7 linked regions of the Homo sapiens genome follow. The protein of the gene in region 7 interacts with the protein of the main gene of each other region in a biochemical or structural test. Each region holds a gene or a part of one and is shown on either strand. Other genes may lie near its edges. The genes, in order: FRMPD3, SHANK1, RAPGEF6, NHERF1, MAST2, CARD11 and FZD4.

Region 1 (3,500 bases), on a different chromosome or scaffold from region 7:
CAACAGAGCCTCTACCCCACTGGAGGAGAGGTCTGGGGACTCCTATGAGGCTGCGAGCTGCATTTGGAATGAGTCAGGGGACCCCTCCCTCTTGTAAGTGGTGCAGTCCGAGGGTCTTGAGAAGTGAGCTGTGTGGCCCAGTTGGGGGATTTTGTGACCAACGACATCCTCTAGGAGCAGTAGTAGATTGAAAAAGTGCAACAAGAAAGCCCTGGGATTGCTGATGATAGCAGCAAGCTGGGAAAGGCTTGCTGGAGATGGGGGTGGGGGTGGGTAACAGAGGAGTCTCGGGTGGGATGAGTAGAGGAGAGGAATTGCCCCACCGCAGTAATCCTTACTTCAGCCCTTGGAGGGAGCATGGGTGGATGCAGGACAACGGAAGCACTCTGTACCCACCCTCCCCCACTACGCATAAATGATTGGACTCCGTGGCTAATGCCTGATAAGGCACTTGGAGGGGCAGCACCAATGCAACAGAGGAAAGATCCCTGTTTTTGTGGCACCTCCAGGCTAACTGAATGAAGCCATAAGACACACATACATACACATACACACAAATACACACACACATATCACACACAAGACACACACCCCTCAGACACACCCTCAAACCCCAACACATACCTGGGGCAAATTGTGGAAAGAGAGGCTCATGCAGACAAGCTTGGTTTTGGGGGGTTCTTGCCTTCACATATAGGCCCTAGCAATCATTGCTAGGGGGACTAGAATTGATACCTATTGATACTAGATGAAGACCCTTAGCTTTGACAGGCCCCCTGGGAGGAAGCACACTCAAGTCAGCTTCTGTTTGTGGGGCAGCCTTAAGGCCATTAGCATTCCCAGCAGAAAATTCTGTTCTGGCTCTTCTCTCAAGGACTTCTATTTTCCTTTTTACCATAAGTTCAGAAACAAAAACATTCTCTTGCATTATCGGCAGCCAAAATGAAGGACTCTCAAAATGGGGTGGACCTTATTGTCTGCTGAGAAATCCTGGGGCTAGGGGCAAAGGGGTAGGGTAGGGAGCAAATCCAGAGAAACATGCCATTTTCCCTCCTTTCCTCCCCTCAGCTGAGCTGCCAAAGGCAAGGACAGTGATCTTGGGGTTCTGTATTATTTCCCACCCATGACAGGCAGAGCACCCTTTTCTGAGACCTGAGGCACCATCCTTAAAACAGAACATTAACAGCCTGTGGCACACTAGTGCCCAATCCCTGGTAGTCAGAAAATGAGCCTGGAAATGGGAATATGTGTATAACGTGGGGCGGGGAAAGGAGAGAGAGGGAAAGAGGTGCTACTTGTGTATCTGTAGGAGCAGGTGTGTCTATTTCTGTGTGTTTGTGTTAAGGAACATGAGAATGAGCAGGTGTGTGCACTCTTGCAGCTTTCTCAGCATGCATGCCGTAGCCAGTGTTTTTGCTCTGTGCCTCAAATTCACTTTGCCATTAGCCACACTACTAGCCACCCGCAGCTTTTGAAAGAACTCTCTGCTAGGTTCTAATATCTGGGTCTCCTTCCAGCCAAGTGACCCCTCCTTTTTTCTCTTTTATTGCTAGTTCTTCTTACTACCCCTCAAATCTGGGTGTTCTCCAGCTCCTCCTGCTTTCCACTTTCTTTATTGACAAGGACACACAGGCATGCATGGCTTCCCTTCTCACCTCTTTACCAACCATTCCCATTTCTCTAGCCCAAACTTAACCCCACTCCTGAGGTTCAGTCCTATATTTCCAACTGCTTGCTAAACATTTCCTCTTGGATAGCTTGCTCTCAGACTCAGTATTCACAAACTCATCTCATTATTTCTCAGAGATGACTCACTCTTCTCACCTTTCTTTTACCATAAGGCTTCTTGTCTCCCAGTCTAGAAACCTCAAAGCCATCTCTGACTCATCCCCTATGCCCCAGTCCACCCTGACTCCTGCCACCACCTCACAGCCACACTGCACTAGTCTCTTTCCTTTCCAGTCCATAATACACACAACTGCTAGATTAATGTTGTGGAATATCCTTTATTCATAATGCTTCTGATCATCATCCTTGGAGGGTGATACCTGATTGCCTGTGGGATAAATTTCAGCCTCCTTAGCCTGGCATTCAAAGTTCTCCTTGTGTGGACCTAACCCTGTATATTCTTCCAACCCTATTTCTCATGCTTGGTCCACATCATTGATTCTCAAATTTTAATGTGTCTTAAAATTGCTTGAGGGAACTTGTTATAATGCAGATTCCTGAGTCCTACCTCCTGAGCTTCTGATTCAGTAGGTCTGGAAGCTGGAGTCCAGGAATATGCATTTTAACAAGCTCCCCAAGTGATTTTGATACACTTGATCTACTTGTGAAACAAAGCCCTACATGGACCCTTCTACTCCAGCCAAGTTTCTTACCCCAGGATCTCCTAAACGTACCTTGTACATTTTTTTTGCCTCTATGTTTTTGTTCATTCCATTTCACTCACCAGGAATGCCCTTTCCTTTCTGCCTATGCTTCTCTCCTATTCCATATCACTATACCTATCCTTCAGCTCTACATTCAAATTCACCTCCTCTGTGAAATCTTCTCTGATCATTTTAGACTAAAGTGATCTCTCTCTCCTCTCAACTCCTCCGTCTCTAAAATACATTTGGGGCTGGGTGTGGTGGCTCAGGCCTGTAATCCTAACACTTTGGGAGGCTGAGGTGGGAGGACAGCTTGAGCCCAGGAGTTTGAAACCAGCCCTTGCAACATAGCGAGACCCTATTTCTACAAAAAACTAAAACATTAGCTGGGTATGGTGGTGCATACCTGTTATCTCAGCTACTCGGGACTACAGAGAGGCTGAGGCGGGAGGATGGCTTGAACACGGGAGGTCGAGACTGCAGTGAGCTGTGGTCGCACCAGTGCACTCCAGCCTGGGTGACAGAGTGAGACCCTGTCTCTAAATAAATAAATAAATAAAAATACATTTGGCAAGTACATCTTTTTTTTTAATTTTTTTAAATCCCCATAGCATATGTGCCTAATACACAGTAGGTACTCAATAGGCATATGTTGAATTGGACCAAATACTTGTTGATTCATATTAGACAGGGATTCTATCGCATCTCCCCCTGCACATTAGTTCATAAAACATTTATTGAGCACCAATTATGTACAAGGCACTGTGCTAGTTGCTGTGGATAATACAAAAGATGAAGGAGGCTTCCTGTCCTTCTCCTTCTCAGTCATCTTTGAATTTACAGTGCCTAGTGCATAGAAGAGATACTTAATAAATATTTGTTGACTACTCAAATGAATGACTTCATGAATAAGTGAAGGGATGAAGTTCAGACTGGAAAAAACTTGAGCAAGTACGTAGGGTGGCTGTGTCATAGAGAAATAGGGCAGGAATGGAAGATAAGGCTAGGAAGATAGAGTGGGTATAGTGGATGACTATTATTATTATTATTATTATTTTTAGAGACAGGGTCTCACTCCGTTGCCCAGATGAGTACAGTGGCATGATCATGGCTCACTGTAGCCTCAAA
Region 2 (3,500 bases), on a different chromosome or scaffold from region 7:
GCTTCAGATACACAGAGGGTTGGGAGCAGGTTTTAAATATCCTTGTCCATCTACAGAGTTCACTTGAATTCTGTTTGAAGGTCTGCTATCCAAATGTGTCTGACCTTCAAATGTGGGTTCAGGGAGTGTATATTTGGGGCAACTTAAATCTATGCTCCCAGGTTGAAAAAAAAAAAAAAAGAAAGAAAAGAAAAAGGAGGCTGGGCACAGTGGCCTGCCTCTGTAGTCCCAGCTACTCAGGAGGCTGAGGTGGGTGGATCACTTGAGCCTGGAAGGTTGAGGCTGCAGTGAGCTGATATGACACCAAGGCACTGCAGCCTGGGGAACAAAGTGAGACCCTGTCTTAAAAAAAAAAAAAAAAAGAGAGAGAGAGAGAGAAAGAAAAGAAAAAGGAAGTGTATATTATTAGAGCAACTTGAATCAATGCTCCTACGCTGTAAAAATAAACAAACAAATGTGGGTTTATTAGGCCTTTAAGAACTGAATGCAATTCCTTGACTATTCTTAAGTATTCTGGTTAGAGAAGAGGATTTTTTTTTTCTTTTCTTTTTTTTTTTTTCCACTGCTTGTAGCAGCAACAGGAAGGATGCTTAATTCAGTCAACAATTGCATTAATTATTGACTCATGACCTATGTGTGCAGAGTGCCCTTCTGGGTGATGGGATCCCCTGCTGGACAGGACAGGCAAAGACTGTGCAACTCCACAGGGCTCATAGTCTAGGGACATAGGAGTGGGGGCGGGGCAGTAAACAAAATAATTGCAACCATCCTACAAAAAAAGCTACCACAATGGGATGGGTGGAGAAGGTCTCTCATGTAACAGGCAAGGTGGGCAGAGTAATGAAAGTGGAGAGGGAGCAGCTGCCCAGGGCAAGAGTGAGCCAGGCAGGGGGAGCAGCCAGTTCAAAGGCCCTGAGGTGGGACAGTGCTGGAGGGGAGGGAACGAAAGGGATGAGGGGAACCTTTTTCTCCCCTTGTTTCTTCTCTCTTTCATCTCCCTCTCTTCATCTCTCTCTCTCTGTGTCCCCTGTCCCTTCCATCTCTCTCCCCTGGATGCTCACCCTCTTTTTGTCTCTCTCTCACTGTCTCCCCATCTTTCACTCTGCTACGACTGGCCATAACCTGAAAGGCAGTATAGAATAGTGGTGAAGAGCTCAGACTTTGGTGCCATATAACCGGGCTCTGCCACTTCCTGTGTGTCCTTAGGCAAGTTATTTAACCTCTCTGTGCTGATAATAATAGTAACCTGCATCAGGGCTGTCGTGGGGATTAAACTGAGATGCAATCATGTAAAGCACTTAGAACAATGCCTGGCACACGTGAGCATCAGTAAGCGGTGACGATTATTATTATTATCACTTAATGTCTCTTTTTCTTTCATCTCTCTTAACTGTCGCCCTCTCCCTGTCCTCTCATCTTTCTCTCCCTTCATTTCTTTCCTCGACGGCCGGCCGTCTTACCCCTTGCTCCCTCCATTTCTTCCCGTCTCTCCTCCGTCTCTCCCCCTACCCTTATGTCTCTCCTCCTCTCTCCCTATATCTTGACCTCTGCCTCTTTCTCACCCCTGCCCTTGCCCCCTAAATCCCTGTCCTCCCCCACTGCCCCCTTGTCACATTCCAGACTCTCCGACGACTCCCAGTCCTCACTCCTCTCCAAGCCTGTCAGCAGCCTGTTTCAGAACTGGCCCAAACCACCTCTGCCGCCACTCCCCACCGGAACAGGGGTCTCCCCTACAGCCGCTGCGGCCCCAGGGGCCACCTCACCCTCAGCCTCCTCCTCCTCCACGTCCACCCGCCACCTCCAGGGCGTGGAGTTCGAGATGCGGCCCCCTCTGCTCCGCCGGGCCCCCAGCCCCTCGCTGCTGCCCGCCTCGGAGCACAAGGTCAGCCCTGCGCCCAGGCCCTCGTCCCTGCCCATCCTGCCTTCCGGACCCCTCTACCCAGGCCTCTTTGACATCCGTGGCTCCCCAACTGGAGGGGCAGGAGGCTCGGCTGACCCCTTCGCCCCAGTCTTTGTGCCGCCACACCCGGGGATATCCGGGGGGCTCGGGGGAGCCTTGTCAGGGGCCTCGCGCTCCCTCTCACCGACCCGCCTGCTCTCGCTGCCCCCGGACAAGCCGTTTGGCGCTAAACCTCTGGGGTTCTGGACCAAGTTCGACGTGGCTGATTGGCTGGAGTGGCTGGGTTTGGCGGAGCACCGAGCCCAGTTCCTGGACCACGAGATCGATGGCTCCCACCTGCCCGCCTTGACCAAGGAGGACTACGTCGATCTAGGTGTGACCAGGGTGGGCCACCGCATGAACATCGACCGGGCTCTCAAATTCTTCCTGGAGAGGTGATGGCTGGCCTGGACGGACCAGCCCCGTCCACAGAACTCTTGAGCCTGCTGGCCTCTTGACCTCTGACCCCTGACTGTCATTCTCTCCCCGGGCCAGGGACTCTGTTCAAACTGCGCCCTGCCCTCATCTCCCAAGGCCAGAGGTCACCAGGTGGCCCAATCCAGGCCGGACATTTGCACCTCACTGAAGGGGGGCAGCTGACACAAGAGTGTGTGTGTGTGTGTGAAGCGGGGAGCGGAGGGGGGATAGGAGAAATTACAGAGGGGAATTGAGAAGGAGGGAAGGGCCTATTCTGGGGGGAGGGGATAGACAGAGCCATAGAGGGTCAGCCCTGAGCCCGATTGGATGGGGACTGTCCCCCAGGCCGCAGGGGAAGGGGGTGCCCTCGGATTCCACCACCTGCCACCCCTCTAACAACCCTTCCCACTCTCTCCAGGCCCCTCAGCTCTCCCCCCTTCCCCTCTCCCCAGCACACACAGCTGCCCCCCTCAGCCTCTTGCACGCTCCGTTGCACGCCTGCTCACCTCTCTCCCCTCCCGTCCCCGGGCTGCAATTTTGCACAAATTTGCCCTCTCGCTGTCTTGCACATTCTGCCTTTGCTTCTGGCTGGCGAGGCCCGCTCAAATACACTCTGCTCTCCTCGCACACGCTGCATTTCCTTTCTCACGCTCCATGCCTCCTTCTCTGCTTCTTGCTGCTTACACACTTTTCCCCTACCAGGGCCCTCCTTTACACACTCCATTTCACATCTCCTCCTCCCCGCTCGCTCTGGACCCTTGTTGCAGACACACTTGGGACACATTTTCCCTCCCCCTCACAGACTCCATGCACATCATTCATTCTCTGGAGTGCCCTGCTCTTTGCTCAGCCCTTGCACACTTGCTATCTTATGCACCCCTCCTGACACACTCTTACCTCCATTTTCTTACGTTGAAGCACTTTCCCTTCTTATTCTTAAAAACCCCAGATTCTTCCACTCCCCAACTCTCCCCTCTCACCATGACACTCCTAGCCCCCCACCCCCCGCCTTCCCTCTTGCCCCTTTTGCACCGTCACTTTTGGTCACGCCTTTTGCACACTTGCCTCCCAGAAACTGTTTCTCTCACACATGCTCATTCTCTTCTTCTTTGCCAGGCTCCCACTCCCTTGCCCCTTTCTGTTT
Region 3 (3,500 bases), on a different chromosome or scaffold from region 7:
CACAACTACTCTGCTATTACACCAGAATAGCCATAGACAACACATAAACAAATGGCATGACTGTGTCCCAGTAAAACTTTTTTTTTTTTTTAAGGCGGAGTCTCGCTCTGTGAGACAGAGTGTCACTCTTGTTGCCCAGGCTGGAGTGCACTGGCGCGATCTCGGCTCACTGCAAGCTCCGCCTCCTGGGTTCACGCTGTTCTCCTGCCTCAGCCTCCCGAGTAGCTGGGACTACAGGCGCCCACCACCACGCCCGGCTAATTTTTTGTATTTTTAGTAGAGACAGGGTTTCACCATGTTAGCCAGGATGGTCTCGATCTCCTGACCTCGTGATCCGCCCGCCTCGGCCTCCCAAAGTGCTGGGATTACAGGCGTGAGCCACCACGCCCAGCCAAAACTTTATTTACAAAAACGAGCAAAGAGACCACCAGATTTGGCCCTGGGCTGTAGTTTGCTACCCCCTGCACTATACTGTAAATGAGGGGTTTACAAACTTTTTTTTGTGAAGGGCTGGGTAGTAAATATTTTCGCCTCTGCAATCTACATATAGTCTCTGTCACAAATTCTTCTGGTTTGGTTTTGTTTTCTTTTCTTTTTTAACCTTTTAAAAGGTTAAAAAACAGAACTATTCTTTGCTCCAGACCATACAAAAATAGGCTGTTGGCTAAATTTGGCCCATGAGCTTTAGTTTGGGGACCCCTGCTATAAATTATTCATTTCATGGGTAATTGGGGAAGTTGCTGTTTACTTGGCACTGTACTGGGCTAACCTCAGAGGTACGTTGAAAAATAAAACATGATTCTTCAAGTTGGGAACTCTTAATTCTGTATGCATGGACGCAGTAGTCTAATATTGTGATGACCAAAAATGAATATGTATACTTAACCTTATTCATTTCAACTCTCATCTTTACATTTTCATTTAAAATCAGTTCAAGAAAAATACTTGCCAGGCATACCTCTGGTCCATCCCAGCTGCTGGGGAGGCTGAGGCGGGAGGATCACTTGAGCCCAGGAGTTAAAAGCTGCAGTGCATCATGATCGTGCCTGTAAATAACCACTGCACTCTGGTCTGGGCAACAGAGTGACACCCTGTCTCGAAAAAAAAAAAAATATCTAACATTTTAAAATTTAAAAAGAAAAATTCTAAGGAAATTTTGCTAAGCATTAGAGTTTCTTTACTGTGTCTTCTGAGTGTTAACTAAATACTTACAAGGAATATAGTGATGAATGATGATAATATTGTTTTCCTCACGATGTTATTTGGCATGAACACTTGTGGTACGTGCTCTGTAGTTTCTCACAGGCAATAATAACTTGAAACAGAGAGAAGATAGTTTTTCTGGCAAGCCTTCTAATTGTACGTTATCTCCAATTTTAGGTGGACACTCTTGAAGCCATCTCTAATCAAGTGTTTAGCTGTCTCATCGTCTGTGAGCAATGAAGAGATTTCTCAAGAGCATATCATTATAGAAGCAGCTGACAGTGGTCGTGGAAGTTGGACTTCGTGTTCAAGCAGCTCCCATGACAACTTCCAAAGCCTTCCAAACCCAAAAAGCTGGGATTTTTTGAACTCTTACAGACATACCCATTTGGATGACCCCATTGCTGAAGTTGAACCCACTGACTCTGAGCCCTATTCCTGTTCTAAAAGCTGCTCTAGAACTTGTGGGCAGTGTAAAGGAAGCCTAGAGAGAAAGAGTTGGACCTCCTCCAGTTCTCTGTCTGACACGTATGAACCAAACTATGGGACAGTTAAACAGAGAGTATTGGAGAGCACCCCAGCTGAGTCATCTGAAGGCTTGGACCCCAAGGATGCCACTGACCCAGTTTATAAAACTGTCACTTCAAGTACAGAAAAGGGCTTGATTGGTAAGTTGTGTTTTTGTTGTCTGTGGCATTTAGAGATTAAGTAGTCAAAAAATGGCATTGGGATATCTTGGCCCTGGATTTTATCGTCGCAAAAATTCATTCTCTAACAACCTTTCTTTCCTTCACAAACAAACAAGTTATTTCCCAAAAATTCATGGTTTCTCAAAGACTTTGGAGCAGCTATTCAACCCCATTAAAATGAAAAGTCTGATGTGAAGGTATTTAATTAGAGGGACAAGTTTGTTTGTCTTTTGTTTTTAAGTTCTTTTTGGTTTTATTGAGGAATATCATCGCATTAGTGTGCAATAGTAGTAAAGGGATTATTCTCTTTATCACCTCATAAATTGTTTGGACCACAATTGGTATGCATACGTGGTAGAAACATTGAATCTGCTATTGATTTTAGGTCGTAACAGTGAGAGAAAATGCAATCAGGAAGTCCAGAACATTTTTCAGTATACTCTCTTGGTGTACATCATGAGTGTGCCAACTCCTGTTTGTGAATTCCATTCCAAGCTTTCTTAGTAAACTTTTTTTTTTAGTATTTGGCCATCAAATACTTTTTAAAAATTTCTTTCCTAAACTATATAAATACGTGGATATAAAACTGCTTTTCTACTTATATGGAATGACTCTACTTTGAATTAATATCATAATCAACTGTTAAATTTATGCAACAGTCATGGTGTCGCATTTAACTACTAAAAATGTGAAGGTGAAATGTGCTGATTTTATAGTTACTTGTCAAATTGCATTATAGGTTGGGTTTTTAGCTCATTCATTTTTTTCCAACTTTTTTTTTTTTTTTTGAGATGGACTCTTGCTGTATTGCCCAGGCTGGAGTGCAGTGGCATGACCTCGGCTCACTGCAACCTTCGCCTGCCAGGTTCAAGCAATTCTCCTCTCTCAGCCTCCCAAGTAGCTGGGATTACAGGTGCCTGCCACCATGCCCAGCTAATTTTTTTATTTTTAGTAGAGATGGGGCTTCATGTTGGCCAGGCTGGTCTCAAACTTCTCACCTCAGGTGATCCACCCACTTCGGCCTCCAAAGTGCTGGGATTACAGGCGTGAACCACCGCACCTGGCCAGAAGTAAAGTTCTTGAAGGAATTAGTTCCTCCGTACCAGCAAAGTTAAAGTTTATATGCTAGGACTGAGAACTAATCTGCCCAGGAGTGCCAGAAAACATTGGTTCATGTCTCAGAGAGAAGGTGAAACAGCCCTTAAACAGATGGCCCAAATGTCATTTCTATGTAAAGTCTCCCAGTTTACAGAGAATCGGTGTGTAGGGTGAACTTTTAAATGTTTCTGATATCTTTAGGGCTGGTGTGACTTCAGGAGTTGTCATGTACTTCTGTGATATGGGGGCTGAATTGCAGAAGGAAGCTTGTCATCAGTGTCATCTCCTTCAACTCTCTCGTTCTATTTAATGTTTACAGGACTTAATATAGTTGTTTATGTATTTTAAAAAGAGGTTTGTTTATTAAACTTTTAAAAAATGTTTTTGATCTGCCATCATTCAAGTTTATTCATTTTGTCTATTTTTAAGTTGTATTTTGTCATTGTAATAAGTTTGTGGGGTGGTTTCTTTTTTTTTCCATTTCTTTTTCATTAACATTTTCATTGCTTA
Region 4 (3,500 bases), on a different chromosome or scaffold from region 7:
CCCGGCTGAGGCTTCAGGGCTCCGGGCCCAGGATCGCATTGTGGAGGTGATGCTTCTCGCTCTCTTCCTATCTGACTGCCCCCACCCCCTGCAGATCAGCAGCACCTGGGGCAGCCATCATACCATCATGGGCTTGATTAGCCCACGGGCATAGCCAACCTGGAGCTGCTGGATGGATGGGTGGATGGGAGGGAGGGAGGGAAGGGTGGTGGATGGATAGACGGAAGGACAGATGGACTGACTGATGGACTCTTCTCTTACCTCCACTCCCCTGGACTCCTCCTTGCCAAGCAGATACAGTGGGCAGCCTGTGATTCACCCATCGATCAGGGAGATGTCTGGGGCCATCTCCAGAGCTTCCCTGCTGCCAGGCACACAGAGTGGGGTGGCAGTAACAAAACCCCTCTCCTGAGTTAGGCCTTTATTTATTTAGTTTTTTTTTTTTTAAATGGAGTCTCGCTTTGTTGCCCAGGCTGGGGGAGTGCAGTGGCACAATCCCAGCTCACTGCAACCTCCGCCTCCTGGGTTCAAGCGATTCTCCTGCCTCAGCCTCCTGAGTAGCTGGGATTACAGGTGCCCACCACCACGCCTGGCTAATGTTTGCATTTTTAGTAGAGACAGGATTTCACCATGTTGGCCAGGCTGGTCTCAAACTCCTGACCTCAAGTGATCTGCCCGCCTCGGCCTCCCAAAGTGCTGGGATTCCAGGCGTGAGCCACCTCACCCGGCCCCGAGTTAGGCTTTTAGACTCGTGCATTCAGGGCTCTGGTGCTGTGCTCCTGGGAGAGGAAACGTGAACCAAATGCTCAGGCAGGTCCCAGAATCACAGTCTTAGAACCTTAGAGCTAGAGATCAGCTCTCCCAAGACTTCTCATTTTACACGTGAGAAAACCAAGGCCCAGAGAAGGAAGTCGGACAGCAAGTCCTTACCCAGGCTGGGCCCCACCCCGGCCTCCCAGCTCGCTCCCATCCCATCTCTCCCAGCTGTGTTTGTTTAGTCTCGTCTGGATATTTTCGTTGGCCCTTCCCATGTATCCTGCCTCCCCAGCTGACTGTCAATGGGAGGACCCCCAGCCTAGTTCAGGACTCTGCAGAAATGGCGGGGGTCAGTATCCCCAGGTTGTGAACTGCAAACTGGCTGAGAACCAAGGTGGTCACCCCTGCCCCCAACCCCCCTCCACTTACCTGCCCCAGAACCAAGGCCTGTGTCCGTAACGCCTCCCCGACCCTGCCCTGCAGGTGAACGGGGTCTGCATGGAGGGGAAGCAGCATGGGGACGTGGTGTCCGCCATCAGGGCTGGCGGGGACGAGACCAAGCTGCTGGTGGTGGACAGGGAAACTGACGAGTTCTTCAAGAAATGCAGAGTGATCCCATCTCAGGAGCACCTGAATGGTAAGCCAGGTGGGGCCACTGGCCGTCCTGGGGCTGGAGCCCCCCAAGTCAGGGATGTGAGCCAGGGCTAAGACTGCTGGGTCCCAGGCGAGGGGTGGGCAGCTTCCCGGCATGGGTGCTCCCTCCTCCTCCTTCATGGGAGGCCCAGAGGTGTGGGCTGGGGGAGCGGGGGCCTAGTGTAGGGAGTGGCAGTGGGTTTCTGAGGACGGCTTGTGATGGGGTCAGCTGGCATGAGGTCGGTGAGAGAGATGGACAGATCTTCTTATTCCCGGCCAAAGCTGCAGCCCCAAAGGAGGCCCAAGCCCCCAGTCCTGTCCCCACCAGCAGACTTTCAGGGCAGTGTCAATGTGAGGAAAGGGTTAACTCCGGGGAGGCCTCCAGCCTTTGCTTGGTCAGATCAGAGTCCAGTGACGGGGGCCGGTGCCTCCCCCTCCCTCCTCTCAGGTTGTCTTGGAAACTCAGCCTTGCTGGCTCTAGAGAGTAGTGGGTCCCCCTTCAATCCCTGGGCCCCTGCCCTCCCCATCCCCCACCATCACCCTGCCAAGCCTGGCGCCTCCCCCTGCCCAGGCCCGAGCCAAACAGGGCAGGGCTGCTGCACCGGGGCAGGGAGGGGTTAAGCATGCTCTGCTCCTTGGTCTGGACTTTCTCCCTGGGAAGATGGCTCCCTGGAGCGGGCAGGGGTGCTCACTGGGCCATACTGAGGGTGGAACCTCTTGGGACTTTGCAGTGGGTGGGGCCTCCTGGAGACTCAAGGTTGTATGTGTAAAAGGAGATTCACACAAAGGTCCTGCGACTCCCATCGCCAGCTGCAAGGGCCCACTGGGGAGGCCCTGTCCCCTTCTGGCGCAATCCAAGGCCTGAGGCTCCTAGAAGAGGGGATGGCCCCTGGAAGTCCCTAGCTGGCTCTGGGCATGGGAGGTGGGGTACCGCCTTACCCTTATCTCCCAAGTTCATGGAAACCAGGTAACTCAGATAATCCCCTTCTCCACTGAGGGGGAGACTAAGGCCCAGAGAAGCCCCAGCCTTCCTCCTAGGGATCTGATACGAGGAAGACACAGCTGGAATCTGGATTCCACTCAGCTCCTGGGATACTGTCCCCTGCTTCCCCCACCCCTTCACCCTGCAGGTAATTGGCCCCCTCAGACATTCCTCCCTCTTCTGCCTGTCTCTCGGGCTAGAGGGGCTGCAGCCTCTGGCCAAAGGACCTGAAGAGGGAGAGGCCTGGGGACAGTCCCCTCCCCGCAGTCCCTCCAGGATGGCATCCTCACCCTTTCCATAGGGAGGAATGCCCCCCTCTCCGGCTGCCAGGGTTTCACCCTGACCACTGTGAGCTGATGGGGAGGGGACAGTGAGTGACCCTGTGTCCCAGCAGCCTGTCCTTGCCCGGGGAAGGCTGTGGGTGTCAAAAGGGAGGAGAAGATGAGAGTCAGGTATCTCTGGCTGTGTCCTGGACTGGGGACAGGGAAAAGATAACCAGGAATTTTAAGCTAAGAGTTCAGAAGAAGCCCTACACTGACCAGTCCCTGGAGATGGAACAGCCACCCCTGAAGCCATGTGGGACCCCTACCCTGAGTGAGCCCAGTGAAGGTGACCCCAGACCTGTCTTCTCTCCCTCTGACCCCTCCAGGTTTCCCACTGGCTGGGGGAGGGGATACCCAGGACACACCCCTTGAGCCTTCTCGTCCCCCCTCATTTCCTGATTGGCAAATAGGAGTTGGGATTATTTTCTCTTTTTTTCTTTTTCTTTTTCTTTTTTTTGAGATGGAGTCCTGCTCTGTCACCCAGGCTGGAGTGCAGTGGTGCGATCTCGGCTCACAGCAACATCTGCCCCTAGATTCAAGTGATTCTTCTGCCTCAGTCTCCTGAGTAGCCGGGACTACAGCCATGCGCCACCACGCCCAGCAAATTTTTATATTTTTAGTAGAGATGGGGTTTCACTATGTTGGCCAGGATGGTCTCGATCTCTTGACCTTGTGATCCGCCCACCTCGGCCTCCCAAAGTACTGCGATTACAAGTGTGAGCCACCGCGCCTGGCCTTTTTTTTTTTTTTTCCGGACACAGTCTCTGTCACCCAGGCTAGAGTGCAATGGCACAATCTTGGCTCAC
Region 5 (3,500 bases), on a different chromosome or scaffold from region 7:
GTTGGGTAGGCCTGGAGCTCAAAAAGGAAGTCAGAGCCAGAGGTACTATTTGGGGAATCATTAGAATAAAAGGGTGGCAGGGTAAAGCCTTCAGCACAAAATGAGTGGCTCAGGCAGAGTATATAAAGGGATCTTAGTTCTAGTTTCTCCCAACTAACCCTCCTCCCAAGACCAGCCATGGACATGGAACAAAATTATGTGTGCCCCCTGCCCCTCTCCCTGAAACAGGAGTATTATGGGCCACTCAGATTGGGAGAGGGGACTAGGAATGGCTCCAGCAGCTGCCTTAGGATGAGGCTGATCTCAGCTCTGTAGAAGAAACTCTGTTCCTCAACTGAATGACTCCTGCCCCCAACATAGAATACAGTTAGGGCAATAAGCAGAAATGGAGTTGTGGGAATGGGCAAAAGGCAGGTTCGTTGCTTGTGCAGAATGCAGCACTCACACAGCCAGAGCGATTTACGTGTCCACACCTGCCTGTCCCCCCAGCTGAAGCTACCCAGCTTGTGTCTCACAGTACCCCCATGGAAGCCTGAGTGGGGAAACTGGGCATATACTAAAATCAGTACTCTCAGAAAACCAGGAATAACTTCTTAATTTTATTTCTTCGTTCTTCCAGCCTCCTAATTACATCCATGGGGCACATCAAGCTCACGGACTTTGGACTGTCCAAAATTGGCCTCATGAGTCTGACAACGAACTTGTATGAGGGTCATATTGAAAAGGATGCCCGGGAATTCCTGGACAAGCAGGTAAGGAAGGGTAGTTGATACACTGGGGGTTAAATTCTAGGCCCTTGTCCTGGCGCAGTGTCTTACGCCCGTAATCCCAACCCTTTGGGAGGCTGAGGCAGGAGGATCGCTTGAGGCCAGCCTGGGCAACATAGTGAGACCCCATCTCTACATTTGTGTACACATACATAGATTCCAGGCCCTAGAATAAGGCCTTGGGGCCATATGCCTACCTTGTAGCTAGATGTTAAGATTGGGAACCCCTATCTTTTCTACCTTTGGGTTCCAGAGAGGCACTGAGATAGGTAGCACATTTGGAAAACAGGATGAGCCTTGAGAATCATATGGATATAAAATCCAAAGTCATCTTCCTCCTCAGGGTTTGGGGAAAATAGGTCATATAACTGTTAGCACAGAGTTTCATATGAGATCAGTCCTGAATCTCCCAGCCTGAATCAAGGGCAAGGCTCTCCTGGAGCCTGAGGTTCTTGGAACACAGCTCTGAATTTCCATTGGGCTGTGGCCCAGTGTCCTGAGAGGCAGCCTCTGGATGTTCCCTGGTTTGACATTTCAGGTTGTGACTGTTCACCGGTCCCTGTAGTTGTTACATGACTGATAGGGTCTGTTTTGTTAGAGGCTGGAGTGCAGAGGCCCATTGTGGGATCACATGCCAGAGGTGGGTGTTGAGGGCTTAAGGGATGGTAGTTCCGGGCTAGAATGAGACATTTTTGTTAATTAGGAAATACCTACTGACAGTTCCGACTCTTGTTCCCTGGGGCTTCTGTTGATCTTGTTCATTAACTAAGGTGGGCTGAGTCTTCATTCAGAGATTCTTCTGCTCGAGATGGGAGCATCCCCCATCTCCGGCTGTCATGCCAGTCAGCAGCCTCAGGAGGCTGAGCCAGCCTGGCTTTTCTGTGCCCAGGTATGCGGGACCCCAGAATACATTGCGCCTGAGGTGATCCTGCGCCAGGGCTATGGGAAGCCAGTGGACTGGTGGGCCATGGGCATTATCCTGTATGAGTTCCTGGTGGGCTGCGTCCCTTTTTTTGGAGATACTCCGGAGGAGCTCTTTGGGCAGGTGATCAGTGGTAGGTACTATGCCCCTGGCCCAGTGGGGAAACAGAGTCTGAATCCACAAATATGATGTATGCAGGCAGCTCGTGAGGCCTGTGAGCTCTTGTTCTGAACTCATCATGTGTGTTTGTGATGTCTGCTGCTTTGGGGATGGGTGTCTCTGTGTTTCTGCATGTACATACATGTGCACACTGTGTCCCTTGGGGCTTCACATGTCTCTCATAGACACCTGGTCTCTCATATACACCTGGGTGTTCCTGTCTGTGTATGTGCACATCCCATAAGTGTGAGGGGTACGTCTGTGTATGTTTTGTGGAGTATAAAAGCAGGGTGAGCTAGAGCTTTGCAGTGCCTGCTGTGGATCAAAGATCAAGCTATGGTCTAGGAACCTATAGAATTTAAGGACTGGGGTCCCAGGCAAGGCTTTCAGGGGCTCCAGGCTGGGTCCTTTTTGCCTCCTTTCCTTTCACTGTTCTGGGACCCTCTTCTGCATCTCTCCACTCTACCCACAATTTCTCCTTTCCCTCTCACCCCTGATGACTTCAGATGAGATTGTGTGGCCTGAGGGTGATGAGGCACTGCCCCCAGACGCCCAGGACCTCACCTCCAAACTGCTCCACCAGAACCCTCTGGAGAGACTTGGCACAGGTAGGGCAGGCCCTGCTAACTTTTCTCACTACTTGGAAAAGGGGTAAGGGAGGCTGAGTCATGTACCCTGGAGGTTCAGGCTTCGGTTACGGGCAGCCCCTCTGGATCCTGAAACTCTGCCCTGCTCTGTAGGCAGAAAAGGGAAGATGCTTGAGCTGATCCCCTAGGTATAGCTTCTGAAGGTCTGGCTTCTTGCTAGATTTGCTGACCTAGACTCCATGCTGCTCATCCTACCCCCTTGCCCATGTCCTCCCTGTCCACAGGCAGTGCCTATGAGGTGAAGCAGCACCCATTCTTTACTGGTCTGGACTGGACAGGACTTCTCCGCCAGAAGGCTGAATTTATTCCTCAGTTGGAGTCAGAGGATGATACTAGCTATTTTGACAGTAAGGCCACCGATGGGTGGGGTGGAGGATGGGTCCTACCTGTTTGCCTAGAAACACCTGTGCACACTGAAATTGCATTGGGAGCAACTTCTCAGGGCTCTGCTGAAATCTAATGGGGTCACAAGGAGGCCACCAGCAGGGCTCTGAAGGAAAGTGTCCTTTATGTCTGGCCCAGCCCGCTCAGAGCGATACCACCACATGGACTCGGAGGATGAGGAAGAAGTGAGTGAGGATGGCTGCCTTGAGATCCGCCAGTTCTCTTCCTGCTCTCCAAGGTTCAACAAGGTGTGACTGAGGAGGCCCAGAATGGGCAGAACAGGCTGGAGGATCAGAAGAAGAGGGCCTGTCAAAGGGCACACCTGGGGCAGGCTCAGGGAGTTGGGGTTGGGGCCACCTCTAGAAAAAGAGGAGCTAAGGGTTGGGGCTACATATAGCTATATATAGGTGCTTCTAGAACCACTGCTGTCCCTGACATGAGATGCCAGGTCAGATCAGTGGAATAACTCCTTCCCCAAATATTCAGCAGGGGTGTGTGAAGGAGGGATGGAACCGACTGGTTCAAATTCCTAGGTTTCCGATGCCAAGGATGCTTTATGCCACTTGGGAGGTACGGCTGCCAGAGCCCATCCCCAGCGCATCCCCTGTGCCCACAGGTGTA
Region 6 (3,500 bases), on a different chromosome or scaffold from region 7:
AAGGAGCCAACCATGCAAGTCTCAGGGGAAAGCACTCGCAAAGCCCATAAGTAGGGGGCATTTTGTTTTTGTTTTTGTTTTTGTTTTTGAAGAAACAGCAGGAAGGCTGAGCTTGATGGCCCACACCTGTAATCCCAGCATTTGGGGAGGCCAAGGCGGGAGGATTGCTTCAGTCCAGGAGTTTGAGACCAGCATGGGCAACATGGCAAAACCCCATCTCTACAAAAATAAGCCAGGCATGGTGGTATGCACCTGTAGTCCCAGCTACTAGGGGTGATAAGGCAGGACGATTACCTGAGCCTGGGAGGTCGAGGCTGCAGTGAGCCATGCCTGTCAAAAGAAAGAACTAGAAGGAAGGAAGGAAGGAAGGAAGGGAGAGAGAGAGAAAGAGAAAGAAAAAGGAAGGAAAAAGACAGGAAGGGAGGGAGGGAAGGAAGGAAGGAAGAAAGGAAGGGAGGAAGGAAGGAAAGGGAGGAAGGGAGGGAGGAAGGAAGGAAGAGGGAGGGAGTAAGGAAGGGGAGGGAGGGAGGAAGGAAGGAAGAGGGAGGAAGGAAGAGGGAGGGAGGGAGGGAGGAAGAGGGAGGGAGGAAGGAAGGAAGGAAGAGAAACAAATGAAAGAGAAAAGAAATGGCAGGAGAGTCAGTGGGGCCAGAGCCAAATAAACAAATGGTGCAGAAGGGAGTGGAAGGGATGGCGGGGTCCAGATCATGGGGGCATGGTAAGAACTTTGGGATTTATTCTAGTTGTGATGAGAACCCTCTGAAGGATTGAGAGCTGAAGAGTGACAATTGATTTATGTCTGAGAAGGATCACTCTGGCTGCTGGATGGAAAATAGACTCACAGAATATTTATTAAGCACCTGCCACGTGTGAGGCACTGTGCTAAGCACTGTGGGAGACATGGGGATAAATAACGTGAGCTGTGCTCAGGTCACTTACAATTTAGTGAAGCAGACAGATCCGTAAACAATCCACCGGGAATTCAGGTGAATTGAGTCAGTGGCATAGCAGGCAATAGTGTTTTGGTTAGAAGCATGAGCTTTGTAAGTCCTGTAGCTTTGAGTTCAAATTCTGGCTTTATGCTTTACGACTTACTTAGCTATTGGCCTCAGTTTCCTCATTTGCAGATGTCAATAATGAAAGTAATACGTGTGCCCTAGGATTGCTGGGATACTGAACCGTAGGTCTTTGGCGGAGCGGCTGACCCTGTAAGCACCCCACAATGCTAGCGCCCCATGCCTGCTCGTGTGGGACCCGGGACTTACCACAGGACACTTGGGTTAAGCTTTGAAGATGCTGAGGAGCTTTTTTTTTTTTTTTTTTTTTTTGCATGAGCAGGAGAGATTTCTATGCTGTTTTTACCTAGGATTTGGGGAAGTTACCCTGTGGCAGAGACTTACAAGTTTCTCTCCCGGAACTTCCTCCTGTGTTATGTTTCCCTGGAGATACATTAATAGTGAGAAAGTGTAAGTAGAATTTGGAAGAACATCTGGCCAGCAGAGTCCCTGGCTGGTTTTCTTGGCCTCGGGCTGCTTCCTGCACGCCCCTTTCTTCATCGTCTCAGGTTAATCACTGGGGTGCAGGAGCTGGTCTTTTCTTGCTAAAGCCACTGCTCTCTACCTGCCAGATTCCTTGAGATGATTCTCCTTCCAAGACTAGATTTGAAAAATGACACTCTCCCCTTTGGTGCCTCCTTTCTTTATAGCCCTCGAATGCAACCTTCTTGTTTGGGATACTTTAGCAAAGCCGATGTGTTTGGGGAGGAACACAGGTTAGTCTCACAGGTTGAAGAAGTCTTCTGCTGGTCCCAGTTCCTGACACTAAACTCTTGAGTGTGAAAATCAGCACATCTCCACTTGTCTCATTTCCAGATGCAATAGCTGCCTCCTCCAGGAAGCTACTCTTTCTGCCACTAAGTCTAGGGAGGTTCTTTAGGGTGGAGATCCTGTGAAATTACAATTCAGTGAATTTCAGGCTGTCTTCTTCTCCTTCTCCTTTTCCTTCTCCTTCTCCTCCTCCTCCTCTTCCTCTCCTCCTCCTCCTTCTTCTCCTCCTTCTTCCTATTATTCTTCTTTCTTCTCCTCCTCCTCTTCCTTCTTCTTCTTTCTTCTTCTCCTTCTCCTTCTTCCCCTTTCTCTTCCTCTTCCTCTCCTCCTTCCTCCTCCTCCTCTCCTCCTCCTCTTCCTTCTTCTCCCCCTCCTCTTCTTCCTCTTTTTCCTCTTCTTCCTCCTCCTCTCCTTCTCCTTCTCATTCCTCCTCTTCCTCTTCTTCTTTCTCTTCCTCTTCTTCTCTTTTCTCTTCTTCCCCTTCCTCTTCTTCTTCCTCTACTTTTCTTCTTCTCCTCCTTCTCCTGTTTTTTCTTCTTTTTCCTCTTCCTCCTCCTCTTCCTCTTCCTTTTTAGCAACAGTGCTATTTATCCAAATAAAATCTTGTGTGAAACCCAGAAGAACAAACCACACAAGCAGAGCTGTTCTGGGATGTGAAGTCAGTGTGGATGCCCAGAACCCCAACTTGTCAACCATCTCCTCCTTCCCCCTGGGTAACCCCTGGATTCCTCAGGGGAATCCTTGAGTTCCGAGGATCAGAATTTGAAACCCATCAGAGAAGGGCGTTGAAGTGGGAAACACCAACTTGGATCTCTTTTATCCCAAAATCCATAACCTGTCCCACCTGACAAAGGTTGAGGGAATTTTCTCTGAGGCCTGTAGCCCCTTTGGAGCTATTCTAAATAGACTAATCAGGAACTCTCCATCAACAGGGTGATGACAGTTTGTTTTACTGGAGAAGGTTTCTTGGAGCCCTTCTCTGCCCGTGGAAGAAGGAGAGAGGGGCATAACTCAGGTTATGCTGCCAGCCCAGTGGGATCGGGGGAAGCGTTGCCTTTTCTGAGTGTTTCTTGCCACCTGCCTTCTCCCCTGGGCACCCTTGGGGTATTTCAGATCGATCAGCTAAAGCACCGGTTGAATAAGATGGAGGAGGAATGTAAGCTGGAGAGAAATCAGTCTCTAAAACTGAAGAATGACATTGAAAATCGGCCCAAGAAGGAGCAGGTTCTGGAACTGGAGCGGGAGAATGAAATGCTGAAGACCAAAAACCAGGAGCTGCAGTCCATCATCCAGGTGAGGGCCTGGGGGCGGGGCCAGCGCGGGCAGTGGGAGGGTGAGGGCTTGGGGTTGGGGGAAACGATGAACCTGCCAGGGTGTGAGTCCCCAAGCCTCACCCATGCTGACTGCAGGATCACAGGCATGCGTGCCATCCTTGGGCACCTTTGTCTCCTCCTCTGTAAAGCGGTGACCCCCACCACCCATTTGTCAGAGATAGGATATCATACTTGGGAAAACATGTGCTTATTTGAAGCACTCCAGGAAAATCACCAACCACGTGGAAATCAATGCCCTGGGCACTGTGGGAAGAGACAAGGACATCTAGGAAACCTACGTGCCCTTAAAGATTCCAAGAAACTCAACTGTAAGCTCCGTGCCTCTTGTTCCAACCTCAAA
Region 7 (3,500 bases):
CTCTGGCCCAGGCAGGGGAAGGAAGACCAGGCGGTAGGGGACTGGTCTTGCTGTTAGAGTATAGAGGTTTGTAATGCAGTTTTCTTCATAATGTGTCAGTGATTGTGTGACCAAGGCAGCATCTAGCAGAAAGCCAGGCATGGAGTAGGTGATCGATACTTGTCAATGACTAAATAATAACAATAAAAGAGCACTTGGGTGAATCTGGGCACCTGATTTCTGAGTTTTGAGTTCTGGAGCTAGTGTTTTGACAATGCTTTGGGTTTTGACATGCCTTTTCCACAAATCTCTTGCCTTTTCAGGGCAAAGTGTATTTGATCAGAAGTGGCCATTTGGATTAGTAGCCTTAGCAATGCTACAGGGTTATAGGCCTCTCCTTTCACATTCCAGACAATGGAGAGTGTTTATGGTTTCAGGAAAAGAACTTTGTGGCTGAGGGGTCAGTTACCAGTGACCTTCAATCAACTCCATCACTTCTTAAATCGGTATTTGTTAAAAAAATCAGTTATTTTATTTATTGAGTGCCGACTGTAGTAAAGCCCTGAAATAGATAATCTCTGTTCTTCTAACTGATCTAGGATGGGGACGCACCCAGGTCTGCTGAACTTTACTGTTCCTCTGGGAAAGGAGCAGGGACCTCTGGAATTCCCATCTGTTTCACTGTCTCCATTCCATAAATCTCTTCCTGTGTGAGCCACCACACCCAGCCTGGGTCTCTCTACTTTTAACACATCTCTCATCCCTTTCCCAGGATTCCTTCCAAGTCAGTTACAGGTGGTTTTAACAGAAAGCATCAGCTCTGCTTCGTGACAGTCTCTGGAGAAATCCCTTAGGAAGACTATGAGAGTAGGCCACAAGGACATGGGCCCACACATCTGCTTTGGCTTTGCCGGCAATTCAGGGCTTGGGGTATTCCATGTGACTTGTATAGGTATATTTGAGGACAGCATCTTGCTAGAGAAAAGGTGAGGGTTGTTTTTCTTTCTCTGAAACCTACAGTAAATGGGTATGATTGTAGCTTCCTCAGAAATCCCTTGGCCTCCAGAGATTAAACATGGTGCAATGGCACCTCTGTCCAACCTCCTTTCTGGTAGATTCCTTTCTCCTGCTTCATATAGGCCAAACCTCAGGGCAAGGGAACATGGGGGTAGAGTGGTGCTGGCCAGAACCATCTGCTTGAGCTACTTGGTTGATTCATATCCTCTTTCCTTTATGGAGACCCATTTCCTGATCTCTGAGACTGTTGCTGAACTGGCAACTTACTTGGGCCTGAAACTGGAGAAGGGGTGACATTTTTTTAATTTCAGAGATGCTTTCTGATTTTCCTCTCCCAGGTCACTGTCTCACCTGCACTCTCCAAACTCAGGTTCCGGGAAGCTTGTGTGTCTAGATACTGAATTGAGATTCTGTTCAGCACCTTTTAGCTCTATACTCTCTGGCTCCCCTCATCCTCATGGTCACTGAATTAAATGCTTATTGTATTGAGAACCAAGATGGGACCTGAGGACACAAAGATGAGCTCAACAGTCTCAGCCCTAGAGGAATAGACTCAGGGATTTCACCAGGTCGGTGCAGTATTTGATTTCTGGTGAGGTGACCACAGCTGCAGTTAGGGAAGGGAGCCATTGAGCACAGACTTTGGAAGGAACCTTTTTTTTGTTGTTTGTTTGTTTGTTTGTTTGTTTGTTTGTTTGAGACAGGGTCTTGCTCTGTCACCCAGGCTGGGGCGCAATGGCACGATCTTGGCTCACTGCAACCTCTGCCTCCTGGGTTCAAGTGATTCTCCTGCCACAGCCTCCTGAGGAGCTGGGACTACAGGTGCGTGCTACCACGCCCAGCTACTTCTGTATTTTTAGTAGAGACGGGGTTTCACTGTGTTGGCCAGGCTGGTCTCGAACTCCTGACCTCATGATCTGCCCGCCTCAGCCTCCCAAAGTGCTGGGATTACAAGTGTGAGCCACCACACCTGGCCTGGAAGGAACCTCTTAAAATCAGTTTACGTCTTGTATTTTGTTCTGTGATGGAGGACACTGGAGAGAGTTGCTATTCCAGTCAATCATGTCGAGTCACTGGACTCTGAAAATCCTATTGGTTCCTTTATTTTATTTGAGTTTAGAGTTCCCTTCTGGGTTTGTATTATGTCTGGCAAATGACCTGGGTTATCACTTTTCCTCCAGGGTTAGATCATAGATCTTGGAAACTCCTTAGAGAGCATTTTGCTCCTACCAAGGATCAGATACTGGAGCCCCACATAATAGATTTCATTTCACTCTAGCCTACATAGAGCTTTCTGTTGCTGTCTCTTGCCATGCACTTGTGCGGTGATTACACACTTGACAGTACCAGGAGACAAATGACTTACAGATCCCCCGACATGCCTCTTCCCCTTGGCAAGCTCAGTTGCCCTGATAGTAGCATGTTTCTGTTTCTGATGTACCTTTTTTCTCTTCTTCTTTGCATCAGCCAATTCCCAGAATTTCCCCAGGCAATTTGTAGAGGACCTTTTTGGGGTCCTATATGAGCCATGTCCTCAAAGCTTTTAAACCTCCTTGCTCTCCTACAATATTCAGTACATGACCACTGTCATCCTAGAAGGCTTCTGAAAAGAGGGGCAAGAGCCACTCTGCGCCACAAAGGTTGGGTCCATCTTCTCTCCGAGGTTGTGAAAGTTTTCAAATTGTACTAATAGGCTGGGGCCCTGACTTGGCTGTGGGCTTTGGGAGGGGTAAGCTGCTTTCTAGATCTCTCCCAGTGAGGCATGGAGGTGTTTCTGAATTTTGTCTACCTCACAGGGATGTTGTGAGGCTTGAAAAGGTCAAAAAATGATGGCCCCTTGAGCTCTTTGTAAGAAAGGTAGATGAAATATCGGATGTAATCTGAAAAAAAGATAAAATGTGACTTCCCCTGCTCTGTGCAGCAGTCGGGCTGGATGCTCTGTGGCCTTTCTTGGGTCCTCATGCCACCCCACAGCTCCAGGAACCTTGAAGCCAATCTGGGGGACTTTCAGATGTTTGACAAAGAGGTACCAGGCAAACTTCCTGCTACACATGCCCTGAATGAATTGCTAAATTTCAAAGGAAATGGACCCTGCTTTTAAGGATGTACAAAAGTATGTCTGCATCGATGTCTGTACTGTAAATTTCTAATTTATCACTGTACAAAGAAAACCCCTTGCTATTTAATTTTGTATTAAAGGAAAATAAAGTTTTGTTTGTTAGGTTGTGTGTGACTTGGCATATTTCTGAAAGTATATGACAGCCACTAGGAAGCATATACACCCAGCAGTGAGAAATAGAGGATTCAGTTTGTAGGGCAGATTGGGAACTGCTTTCTGAGGGCCTCTTTCTTTTTTGCTGGGGCTCTTTTTCCCCTGTGGGATTTCTCCTGCGTCAGCAAACCCCCACAGTCTAAGGTCAACAGAATTGATTGCTAATATGGTCATCAGTAACACTCAAGTAGGTCACATGATGCTTTGGATATAACTATAGTTCTCAAGTTGT

What was found.
Region 1: the proteins of FZD4 (region 7) and FRMPD3 interact in a test that uses a peptide from one of them, tested with the Homo sapiens proteins (one large-scale study listed by IntAct).
Region 2: the proteins of FZD4 (region 7) and SHANK1 interact in a test that uses a peptide from one of them, tested with the Homo sapiens proteins (one large-scale study listed by IntAct).
Region 3: the proteins of FZD4 (region 7) and RAPGEF6 interact in a test that uses a peptide from one of them, tested with the Homo sapiens proteins (one large-scale study listed by IntAct).
Region 4: the proteins of FZD4 (region 7) and NHERF1 interact in far-western blotting, tested with the Homo sapiens proteins (one study listed by IntAct).
Region 5: the proteins of FZD4 (region 7) and MAST2 interact in a test that uses a peptide from one of them, tested with the Homo sapiens proteins (one large-scale study listed by IntAct).
Region 6: the proteins of FZD4 (region 7) and CARD11 interact in a test that uses a peptide from one of them, tested with the Homo sapiens proteins (one large-scale study listed by IntAct).

Annotation. Positions count from the first base shown.
Region 1 is NC_000023.11:107,452,652-107,456,151, forward strand, and holds part of FRMPD3 (FERM and PDZ domain-containing protein 3), read left to right. Parts: intron 1-3,500.
Region 2 is NC_000019.10:50,660,803-50,664,302, reverse strand, and holds part of SHANK1 (SH3 and multiple ankyrin repeat domains protein 1), read left to right. Parts: intron 1-1,620; coding exon 1,621-2,338; 3' UTR 2,339-3,500. UniProt on the Homo sapiens protein: Seems to be an adapter protein in the postsynaptic density (PSD) of excitatory synapses that interconnects receptors of the postsynaptic membrane including NMDA-type and metabotropic glutamate receptors via complexes with GKAP/PSD-95 and Homer, respectively, and the actin-based cytoskeleton.
Region 3 is NC_000005.10:131,429,230-131,432,729, reverse strand, and holds part of RAPGEF6 (rap guanine nucleotide exchange factor 6), read left to right. Parts: intron 1-1,380; coding exon 1,381-1,871; intron 1,872-3,500. UniProt on the Homo sapiens protein: Guanine nucleotide exchange factor (GEF) for Rap1A, Rap2A and M-Ras GTPases. Does not interact with cAMP.
Region 4 is NC_000017.11:74,762,128-74,765,627, forward strand, and holds part of NHERF1 (Na(+)/H(+) exchange regulatory cofactor NHE-RF1), read left to right. Parts: coding exon 1-46; intron 47-1,239; coding exon 1,240-1,393; intron 1,394-3,500. UniProt on the Homo sapiens protein: Scaffold protein that connects plasma membrane proteins with members of the ezrin/moesin/radixin family and thereby helps to link them to the actin cytoskeleton and to regulate their surface expression. Necessary for recycling of internalized ADRB2.
Region 5 is NC_000001.11:46,027,112-46,030,611, forward strand, and holds part of MAST2 (microtubule-associated serine/threonine-protein kinase 2), read left to right. Parts: intron 1-619; coding exon 620-752; intron 753-1,656; coding exon 1,657-1,822; intron 1,823-2,354; coding exon 2,355-2,456; intron 2,457-2,719; coding exon 2,720-2,842; intron 2,843-3,017; coding exon 3,018-3,127; intron 3,128-3,495; coding exon 3,496-3,500. UniProt on the Homo sapiens protein: Appears to link the dystrophin/utrophin network with microtubule filaments via the syntrophins. Phosphorylation of DMD or UTRN may modulate their affinities for associated proteins. Functions in a multi-protein complex in spermatid maturation.
Region 6 is NC_000007.14:2,939,368-2,942,867, reverse strand, and holds part of CARD11 (caspase recruitment domain-containing protein 11), read left to right. Parts: intron 1-2,939; coding exon 2,940-3,119; intron 3,120-3,500. UniProt on the Homo sapiens protein: Adapter protein that plays a key role in adaptive immune response by transducing the activation of NF-kappa-B downstream of T-cell receptor (TCR) and B-cell receptor (BCR) engagement.
Region 7 is NC_000011.10:86,945,396-86,948,895, reverse strand, and holds the end of FZD4 (frizzled-4 precursor), read left to right. Parts: 3' UTR 1-3,217; downstream 3,218-3,500. UniProt on the Homo sapiens protein: Receptor for Wnt proteins.